4 separate regions of the Homo sapiens genome follow, and regions 2, 3 and 4 are each linked to region 1. The links come from fine-mapping of genetic effects on gene expression. A gene starts in region 1. Each other region holds a variant in brackets. All regions are shown on one strand. Distances are between the middles of the regions.

The links. PIP is the estimated chance that this variant, and not a neighbour inherited with it, causes the effect.
Region 2: its variant is the best candidate, but not a certain one, in a credible set for the expression of ZNF596 in breast (GTEx, PIP 0.52).
Region 3: its variant is the best candidate, but not a certain one, in a credible set for the expression of ZNF596 in monocytes (BLUEPRINT, PIP 0.57).
Region 4: its variant is the best candidate, but not a certain one, in a credible set for the expression of ZNF596 in sun-exposed skin (GTEx, PIP 0.88).

Annotation. Positions count from the first base shown.
Region 1 is chr8:230,419-235,538 of GRCh38, forward strand. It overlaps ZNF596 (zinc finger protein 596), which reads left to right and starts at 2,038. Exons shown (of 6, transcript NM_001042416.3): 1 at 2,038-2,276. It also overlaps the pseudogene RPL23AP53. RefSeq lists a silencer at 1,805-1,904 and an enhancer at 1,925-2,244.
Region 2 is chr8:289,685-294,804 of GRCh38, forward strand. No RefSeq gene overlaps it. Among named protein-coding and RNA genes, the nearest start is that of ZNF596, 60 kb to the left of the region's middle. RefSeq lists an enhancer at 1,949-2,068. The variant G/C (reference allele first, on the strand shown) is at 2,481.
Region 3 is chr8:203,639-208,758 of GRCh38, forward strand. It overlaps LOC124902051 (a long non-coding RNA gene), which reads right to left and starts at 1,642. Exons shown (of 2, transcript XR_007061161.1): 1 at 1-1,642. It also overlaps the pseudogene RPL23AP53. RefSeq lists silencers at 3,184-3,263, 3,388-3,610. The variant G/C (reference allele first, on the strand shown) is at 2,650.
Region 4 is chr8:267,330-272,449 of GRCh38, forward strand. All of the region lies in intron 1 of LOC101927566 (a long non-coding RNA gene), which reads right to left. Among named protein-coding and RNA genes, the nearest start is that of ZNF596, 37 kb to the left of the region's middle. The variant G/T (reference allele first, on the strand shown) is at 2,539.

The sequences.
Region 1 (5,120 bases):
TAAAATATTTATGATTGTGGGAACAAGTTAATAAAGACATGAAAGTTATTTAAATGTCCCAGAACTTTAAGAACAAAAAGCATTCTTAGTTTAAAAATAAGTTTTACTTTAAAGGTAACAGTACACACATAAATTGTTGTTAAAATCGACAGTAACAAAGAGAAGTAACAATACTAATAGCCTGTCACAAACTGATTCTTAATAACCTATATAAACAAACATTAAGCCCGGGCGCCGGGTGGCTCATGCCTGTTATCCCAGCACTTTGGGAAGCCGAGGCAGGCAGATCACTTGAGGCCAGGAGTTCCAGACCAGCCTGACCAACATGGTGAAGCCCAGTCTCTACCAAAAACACAAAAAATTAGCCGGGTATATTGGCACGCACCTGTAATCCCAGCTACTTGGGAGACTGAGGCAGGAGAATCCTTGAACCCAGGAAGCAGAGGTCGCAGTGAGGCGAGACCATGCCATTGTGACAGGAGAGAAACTCTGTCTCAAAAAAAAATTATATGTTTACAACAGGTGCATTTCTCCTCTTGCTTTCTGAGGACGCCCTGCTATGTAGCTGAGTAGTCACTAATAAACTATCTTAACTTCACTATACTCTGTGACTTGCCAAAAGGTCTTTCCCATGTGAAATCCAAAAACCTGTTCTTGGGGTCTAGGACAAGACCCATTTTATAATGACAAAACTATACAAATTCTAGAGGGAAACATAGAAAGAAAGCTATGTGACCTTGCGTTTGGCCATGAGTTTTAACACGACACTATCAGAGGCATTTGAACCCCTCCTCTATATGAACTCCAGGGTGGTTTATGTTCCATTGGCTAAGAGAAAGTTTTCTTCAAAAATGTGACATGATTTGAGGTCAAACATTAATATCAAGTAAACTCAAAAGATTGAGAAGCTAGCATTAGTTCTGGGAAAACCAGAAGTGTGCCTTTTTTGGAAATAATCATTGGTAGCACAAACTTAAGAATCTCCAAAGGAAATAAAAATGAGTTATTAACTTACAGTTTTCACCAATTAAGATATAAATGAAGCTAACGAAATCCGGAAATACAATTTCACTGTTTTTAATGTTCATTAAAAAAAAATCCTTATCAAATAGCCCCAGTAAGTCACCAATTAAGTCTTTACTACTTAAAAGCAAAATCCACCTATGTCCTGAACAGTATCCACTTTACGAGCCTCATTATATGTACGAGATAAAATTCAGAAATAAATAAATATACATGTATACGTATACAAATATATTTCAAATTAAAAAATACTTTTAGATAGTGGTATGTATTACATTTAGAAATTAATAACGAAGTAAATTATGGGATGTCATCCACGCCTGTCCCAAAGGTACCGAATTTATAAATCATCTCAGGTGCGGAGCAGGACAGGTTGAAAATAGGAATGACATGAACCCGCGCGGAACAGCTGCCGGCGCGGTGTCCAGGGCGGCACCCCGCCCGGTCCCGGCCCCTCCAGCCCTGGGCCCGACCCCTACTACGCCTCTGCCTCGACGCGAACGCGGAGCCCGAGCGCGCGTCACGCCGTGTGGGGCCGAAGAGGCTGCTACCCAGAGGCGGAGTGCGGGCTCGCGAGGGTCCCCACCCGACTCTCGCTCCCGCCAGCACCTACGGACTCGCGTCCCCGCCGCGCGCCGACTCGGGAGCAGCACCGCCCCCGGCACAGGAGCCTCACGCGCCTCTTACCTAACAGGAAGTTGGGTGGAAGCAGCGCGGACCCACGGCACACCGAACGCACTCCAACAGAACCCGACGCAGACACGCGCTTTCAACCGGCGGAGACACTGGCAGGGCCAGAAACGCGCGCAGCGGGGGCGGGAGGTCGGTAAGCTCCCCGCCCCTGCCCGAGACCCCGCCCCGGCCCGGCCCCGCCTTTTTCTCTGCCTCCCCTCCCTGCACGTACGGGCCCCGCCCCTCGCGCGACGTTTTTTGTTGACCCGGAAACGGATTCTCCGGAGCCGAGGTCCGCTCGGGTGAGTGCCCTCCGCTTTTTGTGGCCAAACCCAGCCACGCAGTTCCCTTCCTGCGGCGTCCTCCACACCCGGGGTCTGCTGGTCTCCGCGGATGTCACAGGCTCGGCAACCGCCCTCCTGTCGGCGGGGAGTCCCGCGACGCCCGGAAATGCTCCGAAGCCTGTCGCCCAGCTGCCAGATCTGCGTCTGTGTCCGGTTCCGTCACTGAGGTCGCCCCTGTCCGGCCCTTCCACCCTAGTTCTCTTCACCGTCCGCCCATCCTATCGCGCGCGGCCTCAGGTCCCGATTCGGCATGTGGCTTGTCTTCCATCGTCCCCACCCTCGCCCCTCTTGGCCCCTCAGGGCAGCCCTGGGATTCGGCAGACGCCAGTCCTCCCTGAGATGCTTCCCCATCCTTCCCTCCGCCAGGCCCTACGTCTCCGCAAACCCCACGCTTCGGGGTGGCCGCCTCAGACAGGACCCTGAGTCCGAGACTGGGGTAGGGGACCTGCCCGATCCTGTAACAACCCTCGTGCTTCTGCACAATCGCCTCCCACTAGCGGTGACTGTTGGGTGTTTACCTTCCCGGTGTCCCACTGAGAAGCGGGCTCTTCCTTGGCAGGGGCTTCTTCATTGCCTCGCTGTGGATGTCGAGGTGGGGCAGGAGAGTGAGGAGAAAACAGAGGAGGGAGGTAGAGCCAACGAGCGAGAAAAGGGGAGGGAAGTTTAGATGGGAAGTGGATGGGTCTGAGGAATTTGAACAAACACCGACAATGAAGGAGAGTGACCTGAGCAAGTAGTAGTGGGGTAAATGGAAATAGACAAAATGGGAATCAGCAGAGATATGGAGGACAGAATACAATGAGGAGGCCTTGACCGTCAGTAGCAGAGAGGGCAGCAGAAGCCTAATTCCCAAATTCTTTAGATGGTTTTCTGATTTCCAAATTAGTTTCCCTTTTAAATTTATTGTGTCAGGTTCAGCTTATGAGGCCTCAATACTTTTCAGTCTTAATTGTATATTGAAAATACTTTTTGTTTACTAAATGCTTTTTACATTAATTCAGTGTGCACTTCGTAAGGATAATGATGATTTGAGTTAGTTTAGTATTCAACAGCTTCCTCTATTCCTTTATATGATCTCTGTATTTAATGGCTGTGGCATAAAGTTTCCAACTAAGTTTAAGTATCAAGTTTTCTTTGTGCTGTTTTCTGCAAATATTGAAGGATGACCTGGATTGTCCTAGAACTTTGTTCCAACAGATTACATGTGTTCATAATGAATAGACTGCTCAAAGATATTTCCAAAGCTCACCTTTTATGTTTTTCAGTTCCAATAATTACATCTTTTTAAGGTTTATATTTTTTGATGACTTAATGTGATGTTCTGGAGAAGACAAATGCTTTTAATCAATATGATTAAAACCGTGAAAGACAAATCGCTGTTACTTAAGAGTGTGACATATGATCTGAAATCTTTAGGGGGCAGGGATGTTAAGGGAAAACTGCCACTATCGTATTAAGGTCATGCCATTCCTGTGAAGCTGGTGCTTGTTACTCTCTACTGGCTTCTGTTCACCTTTCCACCGGCCCCAAGACACACACATAGTGACACAAGGCAGTGGACAGGGAAAGAGCAAGACTTTATAAAGTAAGCACACAACAAAGGTATCTTTCTAATGAGGAGGAGGTGTTGGTTCTGGGAAGGAAGCTTGGGATTTGGGTATTCAGGATCCAGAAGTGAGAGAGCCTGGGAAGTTCAGGAACCAGAGAAAGAAAAAGCCTTGCCCATTCTCACCCATGACACTGTGCTCAGCAGGTACTAGCAGACTTCAGGCTCTGTGACTAAAAGGGGTCAGACCAGTTGATATACCCACAGCTGCCATGTAAGGATGTGTGTGGACTTCACTAGGGAAGAACGGTGTTATGAAAGAAGGGGCAGAAAAACTCACCTGTTGGTCTGCATGTAGAGGTTTATTGTCCTGAATTCCTGGAGGTTCAGTGAAAAGCAGAAGATTGTCTTTTACACATGTTGAGTTATGCCCCCATATATGTGGTTGTGGTAAAGAAAGAGGGTGTGTTGATGAGAGGTCCTGAAATGCATTTTCCTAATACTCAGCAGGGGCTTCTCAAGAAGGATCTTCCCTAAGAAAGAAGCTCAGAGAACAAAAATGGAAAAGGATTAGATATGGCACTTTCACTGGAAAAAGTCATGTTATTCATTGATTGTTTTGTCATCTCCCGCCTTAAGTGTTGTTTTTAGGATGTGGTAATCTCTGACCCTGCCTAACACATTTCCCAACTCACCCATAGCCTTCCCTTAACGTCCTCCCATCTTCACGCTATCACACTGTGACCCAGTGAATTCGAACTTGTGAAGTTCCATTCGGGGGATCATATGGGAAGGGCTTCACACCCAGACATAGATTATAGATGGGAAGTGGGCCACATGGTGTCAGTGAGGCAAGTATGGGTCGTTTAGGGACAATGCACTGTCAGATCTTTGTTGACCATGATTAGAGAAACTGTGCATATTAGTAGTGAATTAATGTCAGGAATATCTGACAAATCCTGGAAAAGAAGATTGATGAGAGGAAATGTGTTCTGCCCAACTGTATAATGCATTTGAAGCTTAAAACAATGAATCAGTATTGATCTGGCCACAAAATATTAATGATTTGAATTAAAAAGAAAAGTTTAGAAAATGATAGCTTTGACAAATTAAGGTAGCATTTCATCCACACGATGGAGTGTGTTTTATTCAGTAATTGATTTAAAAATGGAATCAACCTAAGTGTCTAACAGGAGGGAGTTTTATAAATTGTTCACAGAACATCTGTTCCAAGGAGACCTTGATGTTCATAGATTTGTAAAGAATGCTGCTTACTAGCACACTGACTGCTCTGCAAATGTCTGAGGGTTCCTCCACTTGGGGCAAGTTGGGGGTTTGATCGCAGAGTAAATAAATGGTGCATTTTATAATGTAATATATTCTAGCAAGATGCAGCCCACAAACTGTATAGATACTCTTATGTACCACATAAAGTTCATCTACTACTTTAACCAGAACTTGATACTGTATGTATGTTTTTTTTTTTTAGATTTGGATAAAATGACAACTCATTGTTATTTCCAGTTCACAAAGTA
Region 2 (5,120 bases), 59 kb after region 1:
AATGAAAGCACATTGTTTTCAGGATACCTAAGATAATGACACAAGAATGAAAATGAGTTCATTTCTACAATTACTTGAATCGACCAAATGGGCGTTAACGTCTGTGTATTATACATCTTGCCCCCTCTGAAGTTCTGTCCTCATTTCTCCTCCCTCTTTCAGAGTCTCCATTATTTTCCTCTAGAGATTGGCATTCAAGGCACACGGCTCTGAATCAGCAGTTGCTGTAATTAGGGTGTATCCATGGTAATGATAACGAGGGCTAATACTAATCCCTCCTTCTTCCCTCTTCCTTTCCTTTTCTGACTCTTGTCCCCAGGGTCCCCATCCCACTCATGTGTGCACACACACACGTGCACACAAACACACACACAGGTGCACACAAGCACTCCTAGGACATCCACAAGAGGATGGGCACCCATGCAGAGCGGCCTTGCCACCCCCAGAGCAGATGGCCAGCCACACGTCAACATCAGAAAGGCTCGTATCCTTCTGAAATGGAGGACTCCCTGTTGTGAACCTAATAGAATATCGACATGTGGACACCACAGTTCAGCCAGATTCTCTCGAAAGTGTCTCTGCTGATAGAGGTCCACAATGTCATACTCATGTTTAGAAGCCTGAGATATTTGGACTCTGCAATCAGCTGAATTGTGTCCTGCCAAAGCCCTATGTTGAAGCCCTAACCCTTAATGTGGCTGTCTTTGGAAATGGGGTCTTCAAACAGGTGATGAAGGTTAGGTGAGACCACAAGGGAGGGTCCTGAGCCAATGGGAGTGATGTCCCCAGGAGAAGGCGAAGGGATGTCAGGGATGCGCGTGTAGAGGGAGGACCACGTGAGGGCTTGGGAGGACGTCAGGGATGCGCGTGTAGAGGGAAGACCACGTGAGGGCTCGGGAGGACATCATGGATGTGCGTGTAGAGGGAGGACTACGTGAGAGCACGGGAGGACATCAGGGATACAAATGCAGGGGGAGGACCACGTGAGGACATAGGAGGATGTCAGGGATGTGAGTGCAGAGAGAGGACCACGTGAGGGCACATGAGGATGTCAGGGATGTGAGTGTAGAGAGAGGACCACGTGAGGGCACAGGAGGACGTCAGGATGTGAGTGCAGAGAGAGGACCACGTGAGGGCACATGAGGATGTCAGGGATGTGAGTGTAGAGAGAGGACCACGTGAGGGCATGGGAGGACGTCATGGATGCAAGTGCAGGGGGAAGACCACGTGAGGGCATGGGAGGACGTCAGGGATGTGAGTGCGGAGGGAGGACCACGTGAGGGCTCGGGAGGACGTCAGGGATGTGAGTGCAGAGGGAGGACCACGTGAGGGCACGGGAGGACGTCAGGGATGTGAGTGCAGGGGGAGGACCATGTGAGGACATAGGAGGATGTCCGGGCTTCGAGTGCAGAGAGAGGAACGTGTGAGGACATGGGAGGATGTCAGATATGCGTGTGCAGAGGGAGGACCACATGAGAACATGGGAGAAGATGTCGTCTGCAAGCCAGGGAGAGGCCTCAGGAGGACCAGCCCTGCCACACCTTGCTCTGGGACTGCCACCCGCCAGTACCCTAGGAGAACACATTCCTGTTGGTGAAGCTGCCAAGGCCGTGCTGCAGCACCAGGGGCCTCTGGCTGATAGACTGCAGAGCAGCGATGCCAGTGGTAGCCTCCAAGTAAACTCTCTAAAGGGATTTTGTTTTCTATCCTCATTTTTCCTGCCTTATCTTTCAAGAGACTTCGTTTACCTTCACTTGTGTGGGTTCGTTTCTAAATACAGAGAAGGAATGCAGGCAAAGGAGTACCAAGCCAAGCCATCTTTTTAAAAGATAAACAGGGCACATTTTTCTTCCTTCCTGAGCAACTCATACACCAAATATGTACAGAACACCTGTAAATGGTAGAGGATTCAGATATTTTGAAAGCACAAAACCTACTCTCGAAGAACACACAACTGCTGAGAGGTAACAAAGTTTTGGCCGCTGTAGCTGCTAAAAATAGAGTTGTCATATCCTAAAACTAAAAATAAAGAAATACATCACTGATCAAACACGCTTGATGGCCTTCATTTGCATACGGTCGTGACAAGCCCGGTGGGAGGTGTAAGAATACTTGGGTGTTACCCTGCCCCCGAGGAGCTCATGAAAGCGGTGTTCACAGCATGCTGCAGTTGCTCACATCGTAGTTCATAAGGCATTTTCTCACATGCCACCTAAACTCTTCTGCGGGGCAGCTGGGGCAGGCACCGCCTTTCTACTTCTCAGGTGTGAAAACTGAGGGTCTCAAAGAGGCAAGCACTTGCCAAAGTCACGCAGCAAGCAAGGACAAATGAGAGGGAGGCGTCTCCAACCAGGCGCAGGCTGGCAGATGTGGGCCCGTGAGCACCACTTGCCCTCAGGTCTGTGGTAGGGGTCAGATGAGTGACAGCCACAGGAGAGGCCATCCTCTTGGGGTGGAGGAGAGAGGCCACTCTCCTCTGG[G/C]ATGGTCTTGAAAGATGTCTCTGTACAGGGTGGGCAGAGAGGAGAGGGAGACCTTCTCAGAGCAGGGAGGTGCACGCTGTCACCAGGAGCTGGCCAAGAGGCTCACCAGAGCTGTGGTGGAGGCCGTGCAGACTGTGTGGCGGGGCTGGAACCTGGTTTCATAGAAACAACAGGGAGAAAACAGAGTTGTGAGCTGGAGAGGTGCATGGCCAGATGAGCCACACAGGTGGGTGGTGGGACCAAGGCCACAGTGGTCAGGAAATGCTGTGAGGGGACAGTGAGGAAAGAGGATGTCCCAGGGCCATTCATGCTTGTGACCACAAAGAAGAGATGGCTGGGCCAGGCTCCCCCTTAGCAGGTCTGGTAGCAGTTATGCAGGTGCGATCATCAGTTGATTGAAGAGCTCTCGGGTGAAAAGACACAGAATAGGTCCCATGTCATCGATGCCAGGGTGGGTTTTTATCTCAAAGAAGGCCCGTGCCCTACAGCTGGGAAATGCCCTTCCCTTCACTGCTGCTTCTGCATTTAAAAGTCCCATCAGTGCTAATGGAACTCACAAATGCCTCACACAGGGGAAAACACACTGCGTGAATAGGGATAGCAATTTATAGGACTGACTGAACTTAAAGACATTGAGATTACATCCCGCAGAAAGAGGCTGGCATACAGTCCAATAACTGGCCTAGGTAGGTGGCATTCTGAATGAACGTCAGAAATAGCCTGTATTTTTGCCTCAGTCAGCCTCTGCATATTCTTTTTCTTAAAAGCTTAAAGCAAACAGAAGGACATACTCAGTCCTAAAGGTTCTTTGTGGCCCAAGATGTTCTGGCATGAGAACTGCCCTATGCCAGGAGGGAAATGTTCCAGGAAAGGAGGTGTTGGTGGTTTTCAGCCACAGGAACCACCTCCTCGTGACACCCAATCCTGGGGAATTAATTCTGTGACCCCAGAATAAGTTTCCAAGGACAGGGATGTCACTTGGCTAAGGCATACCAATTCTCCAACTGTGAACACATCTCCGCTTTTCCAACCTCAGCCAAAGGAGGCTGCAGCTCTGGTCAGGCTCTAACACGTGCATGGCTGTCATGGATGCCCATGTGTGCCTGGGCAATAGACGAGGGTGTGCCTTGCTGACCCTTTCTGTGGTGCCCTGGCTAGCCCAACACCATTGTGCAGAGGAGGGTGCTGAGGCCTCTGGAAGTTACTGCAAGGTCACCAGCCCTTGCCCCTGGAGGAATCCGTGTGGCCCCAGCTCTCAATCTGCACACGTCATATCTCCTCCTTAGGGGAGGTTTCCCACCCCCTCTGAACACAGTGAAAAGTGAGTGTGCTTGAAAGCACCGACCTCAGTCCATGTTCCCTGATAGACACGGCCACATCTGTCAATCTAACCTTTGGGCATAGCACCTGCAAGAAACCAAGGCCCAGGCTGCAAAGAAAGGACGCGACAGAGCCTGGACACCGCTGCCTTCATGGGAGCTTGCTTGTGCGGGTGATACTGATGAGGCTCCTCGCGTCCTGTGGGTGAAGCTGGAAGTCCCAGGCTTTGCCATCTCTGGTTCCCCACTTCCCCAGTTTCGACGCTCTCCTCTCTCCCCACCCCTGCAAACACATCCTATGATCTAATTTAGCATTTTTCAATTTATTCACAAAATCATTTATTGCTCACGAAGGGATCAAGATCCATGCTCACAAGCATTATTCCGGTTTACACAGCATCTTCTCGCTTCTGTGACAGATTCACTTAGGATGGTACACCTTCTCAGATTGTGTTTCCTTCTCATACAATGTCCAAACACCACTTCTCTATCTGGTAAGCTCCTAGTCATACTTCAAAGCCCAATCCAAATGCTATCAACTCAACCTTCCACTACCCAACCCTGCAAGCAGAGCTGCTGTTCCCACAGCTGTTTGCTGTATAACTGATTATATTTGTATTTTTGTATTATATTTGTATATTCCAGATATTTGCTCACATCTTTCTCTCGCATTAGGTAGTGTTGCATGCCACAGCACCAGCACCAAGTGTGGCTCGTAATGTGGTTGCTCTTTATCCAAGGAAAGAGGCATGAGAGAGGCACAACACTAATGAGAGAAGCATTTTCAGGGGACTGTGTAGTAAAACCTAAGTACAGCTGTCCTAGGGAACAAGCCAAGGGAATCTGCCCTCCCCTCCCTCACTTCCAAACAGAAGTGGCAACTGTAGGTGCACCCCTTCCTTTTCTTCATAAGGGCCCTTGGTTTTTCTTTGGAAGTCATTCCTCCCTGACAGTCTGAGCATTAATTTGGATGGGGAGGCTCCGACCTTGTGTTTTCAGGGGAGGCACAGAACCTGGGACTACCCTAGGAGAGTTCTCCATCCCCTGGCCTCTGAGATTGGTGCAAGACGGCTCCTGACCCCAGCAAGAACAGCAAGTTACCCCAACTTTTGCCAGAAGTCTTGAGGGAAAGTCCTCTCTGATGTACTGGCTGCAAAGCATCATGCAAGCCCTGAGCTTTGTTACAGCTGTGCAGAGAAAACCATCTTAGAAATGAAGCCAACACAGAGACAGCAGAGTCAAAGATGGAGACAAACGTCCAGATGGTGCTGAGCACCTGGATCCAGCCATGCCTGATGCTCACACTGGGACTTTTGGTTAC
Region 3 (5,120 bases), 27 kb before region 1:
AGTTATCCATTTCTGTTTTCTGGAACAGCTATGTATTTTCTTTATCTATCATCTATCTATCTATTTACCATCTATCTTTTCTACCTTTTGCTATCAAGAGCTTGGGTCAAGCAGGATAGAATTCCAGTGTATGTTCACTCTACCATTTAAAACAAGAGCTCTTGTAGGCATTCTCCATCACATCATAAACCTGAGCTTTCTAAAACAGGGTGTGGCAAACTACCATGCATGGACCATGTCTGACACAGTCTGCGTTTGTAAGTAAAGTTGTAATAGGACACAGCCAATACATGTGTTACATAATGTCTCTGGCTACTTTCATGGTATAATGGAAGAGCTGAGTCATTGAGAGAGAGACCATATGGCTTGGAAAACTTAAAATATTTAACATTTAGCCTCCTGCAGAAAATACTTGCTGACTCTTGTTTGAAAAGATCTCTGTTTAGAATGCTACCTATTGCGTTCTGGATAGAATCACAACTCTTTACCACAATCGACACAGCTTCAGCCCTGCTTCTATATCCAGCCTCATCTATTTCTGCTCCTCCTCCTTATTTTCCTTCTGGCCATGCTGATGGATTGTCAGCTTCCCAGATGTGTGAGAATCTCTCCTCCCTTCCTAACATTCTCATGCTCTCCCTCTGCCTCTCAAGAACTTCCTGCCCCATCTCTCATGACAAATCCTTTCTACATTCTTTAAGATGCAGCCCTTTTGCTCCTTCCTTAAGGATGTCTTGTCTGGCTCTATTTTGGGTGACGTGCTCCTTCTGCATCTCCCAGAGCCAGCCTGTGTGTGTCAGCTACAACATTTCTTTGCATCTCTGTGTCATATATTACCAAATCTGCCTAAGCTTGCATGAGTCACTGCATGACAACTTCAGACTCCACCAGCATTGTCCCCACTAACCACAAGGCTTAGACATTCGTCCAGTATGCTCGGGGTTGTGGGGTGGTAGCAGTAACCAGCTGGTGACCATCATTTCTTACATCAGAATCAAATCTGTAGATCTCTGCCATTCATAAGTATTTGGAGTTTAAAATTAGCATAAAGATTTTCCTTAAAATAAGAAGAAATGCCTTGAGTAGGCTTTTGGAACATAGGATGTTTCCACTGGTTCATTTCTGTGTTCAATATTCCCACATGAATCTAAACACGACTCTGCTCTTAGTAGCTATGTGACCCTGGGAAAGTCACTCAATCTCCCTCAGCTAAATTTTGTTGTGTGAGTAATGAGGAGAGAGTTGTGATTTGTATTTAGTGAATAATAACAAAAGGCATTTAGCTTTCTGGAACCTGGTATGTAGTAGAACCTCATGAAATACTAGCTCTGTTGATAAAACTAGACTGAAAGAAGCTTTCAAAGTCAACAACAGTTTGAGGCAGTGAAGGACGTAGAGGAGAAGCTGCTGCTGCAGGGGCCTGTAGCTCCTGGAAGCCCGTTTTGTCCATGATTTAGCAGGAATGCATTACCCTTCCATGACGAGGCACAGCCCACAGAAACCAAGGCCATTCTTTGAAGAAAAACATGTCTTAATAGCGTTTACATTACGTAACAGTGTAATACAAATAATAATTTATTATTAGTAATAATGTGAAATTATTTACAGTACCGTAACCCTAACTCTCACCCCTAATCCTAACCCTAACCCTAACCCCTAACCCTAATCCTAACCCAAACCCTAACCCTAACCCAACCCTAACCATAACCCAACCCTAACCCTAACCCTAGCCCCTAACCCAACCCTAACCCAAACCTAACCCTAGCCCCTAAACCTAAACCTAACTCCTAACCCCTAACTCCTAACCCTAACCCTAACCCTAACCCTAACCCCTAACCCTAACCCCTAACCCCTATCCCTAACCCCTAACCCCTAACCCCAACCCCAACCCTAAACCCAACCCCAACCCCAACCCGACCCTGACCCCGACCCCTAACCCTAAACCCTAACCCCTAACCCTAACCCTACCCCTAGCCCGAACCCGAACCCGAACCCTAACCCTAACCCCTAACCCTAACCCCTAACCCTAACCCTTAACCCTAACCCTACCCCAACCCCAACCCTAACCCCTAACCCCTAACCCTCACCCTAACCCTAAACCACATGAGCAATGTGGGTATTATATTTTGGGTGTCATGTGTGCATTAGGAATGCTGCATTTGTGTTCCGACACTGCAGTTGGCCCCTGCAATGCAGCCCCTCGCCTTGACTTGGGAGAATCTCGGTGCGCAGGATTCAGAGGGGCTTTTGGTTTCCCGTTTTCCACACTGAACCGTTCTAACTGGTCTCTGACCTTGATTATTAACGGCTGCAACCGGGAAAGATTTTATTCACCGTCGATGCGGCCCCGAGTTGTCCCAAAGCCAGGCAGTGCCCCCAACGTCTGTGCTTAGGAGAATGCTGCTCCACCTTTACGGTGTCCCCCAGGTCTGTGCTAAGCAGAACGCAGCTCCGCCCTCGCGGTGCCCTCAGCCCGCCCGCCCGGGTCTGACCTGAGGAGAACTCTGCTCCGCCTTCGCAGTACCACTGAAATCTGTGCAGATGAGAACGCAGCTCCGCCCTCGCGATGCTCTCCGCGTCTGTGCTGAGGAGAACCCAACTCCGCTCTCGCAAAGGCACGGCGCGCCGGCGCTGGCGCAGAGAGGCGCG[G/C]CGCGCCGGCGCAGGAGCTGTTCGGGAGACGCGGCGCAGGGCATAGACGCACGCCTCCGCGTCCCCGGAGGGGAGGGGTCGCTGGGCGGGCGGGAGTGAGGCGCGGCGCAGGCGCAGGCGCAGAGACGCACGTCGCTGGGCTCAGGATGGCGGGGCGTGTTGCAGGTGTACAGTTGCACGCCGCCGGGCGGGGAGCGCGGGAATGGCGAGGTGCAGGCGCAGAGACACACGTCCCCGGCGGCGCAGCGCACAGACGGGTGGAACCTGAGTAATCTGAAAAGCCCGGTTCGGGTGCCCCCTGCTTGTACCCGGGCACTACAGGACCTGCTTGCCCACGGTGCTGTGCCATTGCGCCCCCTGCTGGCAACTAGGGCAACTTCAGGGCCCTCTTCCTTACAGTGGTGTCCAGCGCCTCCTGCTGGCGACGGGGCACGGCAGGGCTCTCTTGCTCGCAGTATACTGGCGGCACGCCGCCTGCTGGCAGCTAGGGACATTGCAGGGCCCTCTTGCTCACATTGTAGTGGCAGCACACCCGCCTGCTGGCAGCTGGGGACACTGCCGGGCCCTCTTGCTCCAAGTGTAGTGGCGGCTGCTCCCCTGCTGGCAGCTGGGGACACTGCCGGGCCCTCTTGCTTGCAGTGTAGTCGGGGCACGCCCTCTTCTGTCCGCTGGGGGCACTACAGGATCCTCTTGCTCAGTGTAGTGGCAGCACGCCCCCTGCTGGCAACCAGGGCACTGCACGGTCCTCTTGTTCATGGTGTGGTGCCCCTACGCCACCTCCTGGCAGCTAAGGACACTGCAGGGCCCTCTTGCTCACAGTGTAGTCGTTGTTCGCCCCCTGCTGGCAGCTAGGGACACTGCCGGGCCCTCTTGCTGACACTGTCGTGGCTGCACGCCACATGCAGGCAGATGGGGACTAAGCAGGGCCCTCTTGCTCCCGGTGTGACGGCTGGCGTCCCCTACTGGCCGCCTCCTGCACCACTTAAAGTCAGAGCGCCAGTTATTAATCCCCATCAGTTCTGTAAATGAAAACTGAAAAGGAGCTATTACTGGGGAGAGCTGATGTCCCAGTTATTAACTTGGAAGAAAGATTTTCACCAAGAGGCAGTACAAAGATGGAAGATAACTTCATTGAAAAGAAATACAGTGTAAAGAGCTTATTGTAGGAAAATAGGGAGGAGTGGGTTCATAGTGCATGAAAACAGCCTAAGAGTCCTGTGCAGGGAATTTTATTTTGGACTTCTTCACATTCCTGCCTCTGTCTCAAGTCTATGCTTGTTTTCCTTGGTTTTCCTGCTACTGCCTTAGGTCCCTGACTTGCCCCACTTAGGCTTGTGGGACCTCCTGTTGATTGAGGTACACGTGGGGTGATGAATCTGAATCCACTCTGGCACCAACCTCCTTCCCGCCATCCCAGGCAGGCTGACAGCAGTCACGTTTGTATCTACTGCACCTGCCTCTTTTGAATGTCTTTCTCTGCCCTAATCTGTACTTATGGTGCCAGGTTTCTCTTAGGAATGTCCCCTTTGTCCTTCTTATCAGCATGTAGCTAGCAATATTCTGACATTTTTATTGCAGTGAATGATGATTGGGGCATCTTAAGAGAAGTTCTAGGGTGTTTCTGTGTAGGTACCTCTTCTCCCTCCTAAGCACAATTGACAAGTGCCCATCCACTCCAGCACTGGAGATGCTACTAATATGTGCATTTTTGGTGGTCCCTCCAGGTGAGCCTTCACAGACTTTCCCTTTTCCAGGAGCTCCCCCTCCTGTTCACGTCTAGCTAGCTATCTACTCTAACAGAGCCCACTATCCTGTGTCTTTCCCAAAAATAGTGAGGGAATGATTAATTGGAAACCATAAGAAATCATATGCATGTAGATGAAAACTTTACAACTTACACAAATAACCACTCAAAATCATCCTTACACTAAAAATGCAAAACTATACAATTTCTAGAAGAAACTATAGAAGAAAAGCTATGTGCCTTTGCGTTTGGTGATGAATTTTAACAAATGACACAGAAGGTTGATATACACAGAAGAAATGACAATGTGGATTTCTTAATATTTACAGTTTATACTCTGGAAGAGACCTTGTTAAGAGAACCAAAAGACAAGCCACATATTGAAGAAAATATTTGCAAAATACAGATCTGAGAATTTGTATTCAAAATACATAAAAAATTGTTAAAACTAAACAATAAGTTAAACAGCCCAATTAAAAATGCACACAGATCTGAACAGACGCCTCACCAAAGAAGATCTACAGATGGCAAGTACACTTACAAAAAGATGCTCAACATACTAGAGAACTGAAAACCACAAAAAGATAGCACAGCTGGTCTATATCTCTTAGAACTGCTAAACTCTTTAACAAATGACAAATTGCTGGAGGAAAAACAAGAACTCTTTTCATTGCCGGTGGAACACAGTGTATAAGACCAAAATATGCCACCCCAAAATATAATGGTA
Region 4 (5,120 bases), 37 kb after region 1:
AACAGTTTTAGTTGACAGAGCCCATAATGTGAAGCCAAATCCATGTGGACATGCTTAGATAGACATGATATTTTTGTGGAGGGATTCTTCAACTGCTAAGAGTGGGAGTAGAAATAGAAGAGTGGGGAAGGACACAAAACCTTATATTTCATTTCATAACCTTTGGAATTCTTAATTTTTTCTATGTGCATGTATTACCATGTAATAAAAATTAATTTAAAAGACATTTAATAAGAGTATAAAGGCATGAAGGACTACGGTAAGGCATGAATAAATTATAGTGTGCTTGAAGTTTTCACCATAGGATGAAAGGACAAACAGAGAATTAGGAGTATTGTTTTCCACACCAAAATATCATGACTTGGCTGAAGAAATATATCTATCTGTATCTGAAATCAACATTAATGTTATCAAATAATTCAGACTTAGAGTTTTCAATAAATGTATAGAAATTGTTTTATTCAAAGACTAAGGGGGAAAGGGTGAGAAATTAAGTCTAGCAGTACAATTATAGAACCTCTGGTGTATTCTCATGGGAAAATTAATGTTTTAGGTAAAATGGAGACGACAGTAGTTACGACAAATACTTGAGAAAAGCCTATGAAATTACTGACTTTGGTAGTCCAGCCAAACATTTGCTTCAGGAAAAGCATCCAGAAATATAATGATTTAGGGATATCAAGGTATACTATATAAAGCATTGTTGTATATATTATTTCCTCTTTTCCCTTGGGAGGTAATATCTGAATTATTATCAGACTCCTAATGAGGAAACACTCTGAGAAGTGAGAAGCCTGCCTTGTGTCAGAGTGGGTAAATCAGAGAGACAAAGGCGTTAGGGCTTGAACTCAGGCCCTCTGACTTTGCAGGGTTCTATTGAAGTGGCCACCTTGCCTGAGGCTATGAGGCTGAAGGAGTGGGCAGAGGAATACACTGTGGTCATTCACACCTGAAATTATCATCTTACCAAGGAACCACCTTTCCCGATTAGGTGACCAATTCACTATTTATCCTTTTACTATTTCTTAGAAACCCCAAAGCCAATACATACGCTATTCCTTTGTAAATTATAGGGTCAATGAAGTTGAATTGATTGTTTCTGGCCCCTCTGATAAAGGTAAATTGAGTAAAGTGTAAACGTGAAACAGCATGGGTTAGGATACTTTTCAAGGATTTTGGTGCCAATTTCTGTTTTCCCCATGGCTACCCTCATATTATCTTTGCTTTTAGGCATTTTTTCCTTCAGATATATAGGTTTTATGCACAAATGTTAGTGAAACAGACTGTTAACTGTGAGGTACAATTTTTGTCCAGCAAATTTTAGTTTCCACATGAAATGTTTCATTGAATTTGGATAATTTGAAAAGAGGAATACATTATTTTATAAATTGTTAACTGTTTTAAATTTGGTTAGGGGAAGACAGTGTGGTGATTCCTCAAAGACCTAGAACCAGAAATACCATTTGACCCAGCAGTCCCATTACTGTGTCTATACTCAAAGGAATATAAAACATTCTATTATAAAGATACATGCACGTGTGTGTTCATTGCAGCACTATTCACAATAGCAAAGACATGGAATCAACCCAAATGCCCATCAATGATAGACTGGATAAAGAAAACGTGGTACATATACACCAGGGAATACTATGCAGCCATAAAAGGAATGTGATCATGTCCTTTGCAGGGATATGAATGGAGGCGGAAGCCATTATCCTCAGCAAACTAACACAGAAACAGAAGACCCAACACCACGCAGTCTCACTTACAAGTGTGAACTGAACAATGAGAACACATGGACACAGGGATGGAAACAACACACACTGGGACCTGTTGTGGGGGTGGAGCGGGGAGAGGGAGAGCACCAGGAAAAATAGCTAATGGATGCAGGGCTTAATACCTAAGTGATGGGTTGATAGGTGCAGCAAACCACCATGGCACACGTTTACCTGTGTAACAAACCTGCACATCTTATACATGTATCCCATAACTTAAAATAAAATAAAATAAAAATAAAATTCAGAAATAACCACCCTCCCCCAAGAAAAAAAGAAGGATGAGAAGAGTTAGAGGTTTGTTTCTGTGCCACCCTGTTCCAGAAAAGAGTTGAAACAGTTTACAATGAAGTATTTAATAACATAAAACCAAATGAAGATAGAAAATTATAGAGTAAAAATGGAATATCAAGACAGGAATATGAAGAGACAGGTAAGTGATGAGCATTGTCACAGATCTTATCAGAGGCTGAGCTCCTATGCAGAATCCATGAATAACTAGACCTAAACCCTATGCAGCTACCTGATAGATGTCATATGCTCAAAAAGGTGTTAGCAAGCAGTGGATAGCCGTTGAATCTGAGCCTGAATGTATGTTGTATAAAGACGATGTGTAAGGAGTAATGTGTTCCCTTATCCACATAACACCACCACTGAACAAAGAGCAAAAAGAAAGAGAGGGAGGGAGGGAAAGTATCTATCCTACATGTTGACAGCAAAGTTACATTGTTTGAATACCAATGTAAGGAGCTTTGGCACCACA[G/T]TTGCAGACTGCCTTGAGTTCATACATTCTCAACCTTAACAACAATGTAATTTTTGCAACTAGAGACTTTTTAAAAATTAGGGCAGACAACTATATTCAAAACAGTAGGCTCTGTCACTTCAAGATCTGCTTTGAGAAAGGCAGTGATAATGGAGAGAGTATTTGCTGAGGTGACTAAAAAATTGAACACAAACGGTTTTTTCTGTCAACTGAAATGACCACTATCATTTTGAACTTTCATAATTTTAGGAACACATAGTTGGTTTTCATTAAGCTGAGGATGGCTTTGACCACCTGGTAAAGACTACAATGTCACAGAGGTCAAAACCACGACAGACGCTTTAGATGTACACATAGTCATGTAAATTATAATGCTTCGTTGAAGTGAGGAGAAATCACACTTACATAGCTTAAAAATATCTCACTGGATTTTGCTCAAATTTGTATCAAATATTGTACTGAAGCGCTATTCAAGATCAGAGCCCCATGGATAAGCTCGGGGCTTATCAAGAAAAATATACACAGCTGCATTGATTTTCAGATACACAGAACTCTAGAGAACGGATGTGATCAAGCAAACAACCTAACATTTTCAAGGGGCTAAACCAAGGCCCAGAGTCGGGAGGGGACTTACCCAGACTCACAGGGAGCAGTGCCAAAGCTGGGCCAGACACACATCCCCCTGGCGCCAGCCAGCTCCCCGACATAGGACAGATCAGAGTAATACTTGAAAATTTACAATTCACTATGTAGGATTTGTGTTCCTGGAGAAGGAAGTCGGTTGGTGGGGGCAGGGCAGGGGGGCAAGTGCAATGTACAAGTGAATGCTGTGATCCCTAAATACCCGAGGAGATGAGGGAAACCACAACTGGTGACATCAGGGGAGTCAGAGACGGCACTGTGACAGGGCTTGAGTAAGGACGTGGAGCAGATCAGAGTTCCTGGACAGGACAGTGCGTGGGGTGAGCACCTGGGTAAATGGAAAAGGAGGAACCAGAGGCCTGGGGGAATTCATGATGGACTAGGTCACTTTGGGCCATATGGGCGAAGGGGATCAAACAATTAATTTTAAAAAAGAGACAGATTGTACGTCTCCTTGAGATTTAGCACCAGAGATATAGAAAGTGACAAGACACAGTTCGAGCCCTCCAGCCTCACCACACAGAGCAGACGACAAACCCTAAACTGATCACTACATGCAATGAGAGAAATGTCGCACTGGGGAACACAACAGGGCATGGAAGACCTGTGCAAACTGTTAAGAAAATGAGACCAATTCTTCCTGGGAAAGTGTGACAGGTTCTGAAGAGCACCAACCAAAGATCTGCAGTGGGGGCTCTGAGAGTGGAGTGAGGGGAGGGGCAGTGAGAAGCACCTGCCCCTGCACTGCTAAACAAATCCCACACCAGAGCCTGCAGGCTCCCCAGCTCCAGCTCTAGGCCTGTGTCCACTTCCTACCAAGGCTGTTTCCTCCCGCCCACCTCTGTCCCCACATTTTCACTCTGAAATCATGATACCAGTTTGCTGTTTTCAGAAACATCTGCAATTCCAAAGGAAAAAATCTAAAAGAATATCTAATGATGACGTTTCTCATTAAAATACCTTTTTGATGTTATTTGCCTTCTAGTGAAAATCATACCTAATCATTTTTGAATTAATTTTCAAAAATTTTTGGAATATCAAAAGAATATTACATTTTCTAAATTGGTCAGTTGGGTTAAACACAACAATGGAGACACACACAAAAGAAGCAATACCTGAGGCTTATAGTCAACAGTTACCCAATATGGACACTCAGAAATCGTTGCGTTACTTATTTTTAACCACATCCTATCTTCTTTAAATAGTGGTATCTGAGATTTGAGAAGGCAGTGAGTTGCAGTTCTTCGAGAGCACTGAATTCCTACAGATATATTCATTTTGTTTGTTTTCTCACTTACCTTTTTTATTCTTGTTCATCAAAGCCATGACATAACAGGTCCACAGATCAGGAAAACAGCTCATTACATAAAGGGGGAAATCAGATTCACACACTACCTCGACTTTAGCCCAAACCCAGATGGCAGAGTCTCCTCCAGGGTGGGAAAGTAGCCATAAGCATCCGTTTCAGTCACTCCACATGTGTATTCACACGACCTGCGGGGCGCCCCAGAGGCCAGGCGGCCGCTGGTTCTGGGGACGTTTTTCAGAAGAGCAAACGCACCGGATGGCAGGTTTTGGAAATGTTTCCCCTAAAGCAGACCCCAAAACCCAGCAGCGCTGAGCACTCAGGACCGTTTGTATCTGTGTTATTGCCCATGAGAGAATAGATGGCATGCAAAGACATTATTATTAAAGTTGGTAGTGCAAGAACACACAGCAAATTTATGTCTTGTAGTCTAGATAAAATATTACAGTCTCTGCTACAATTTCAGCAGGCTCACTGGGGCCTGTGACCCCAGCATCCTGGGAGCTCCACGTAGCCCACCTTAGCGCTGGGGTCCAAAGCCCTCATCCAACTCACACCTCGCACTCCTGCCACTCACAGGTGAGACTGAGCTGCTGGGAACATGGGGCCGTGCTGACTTTCCTTGTGCCTGCCC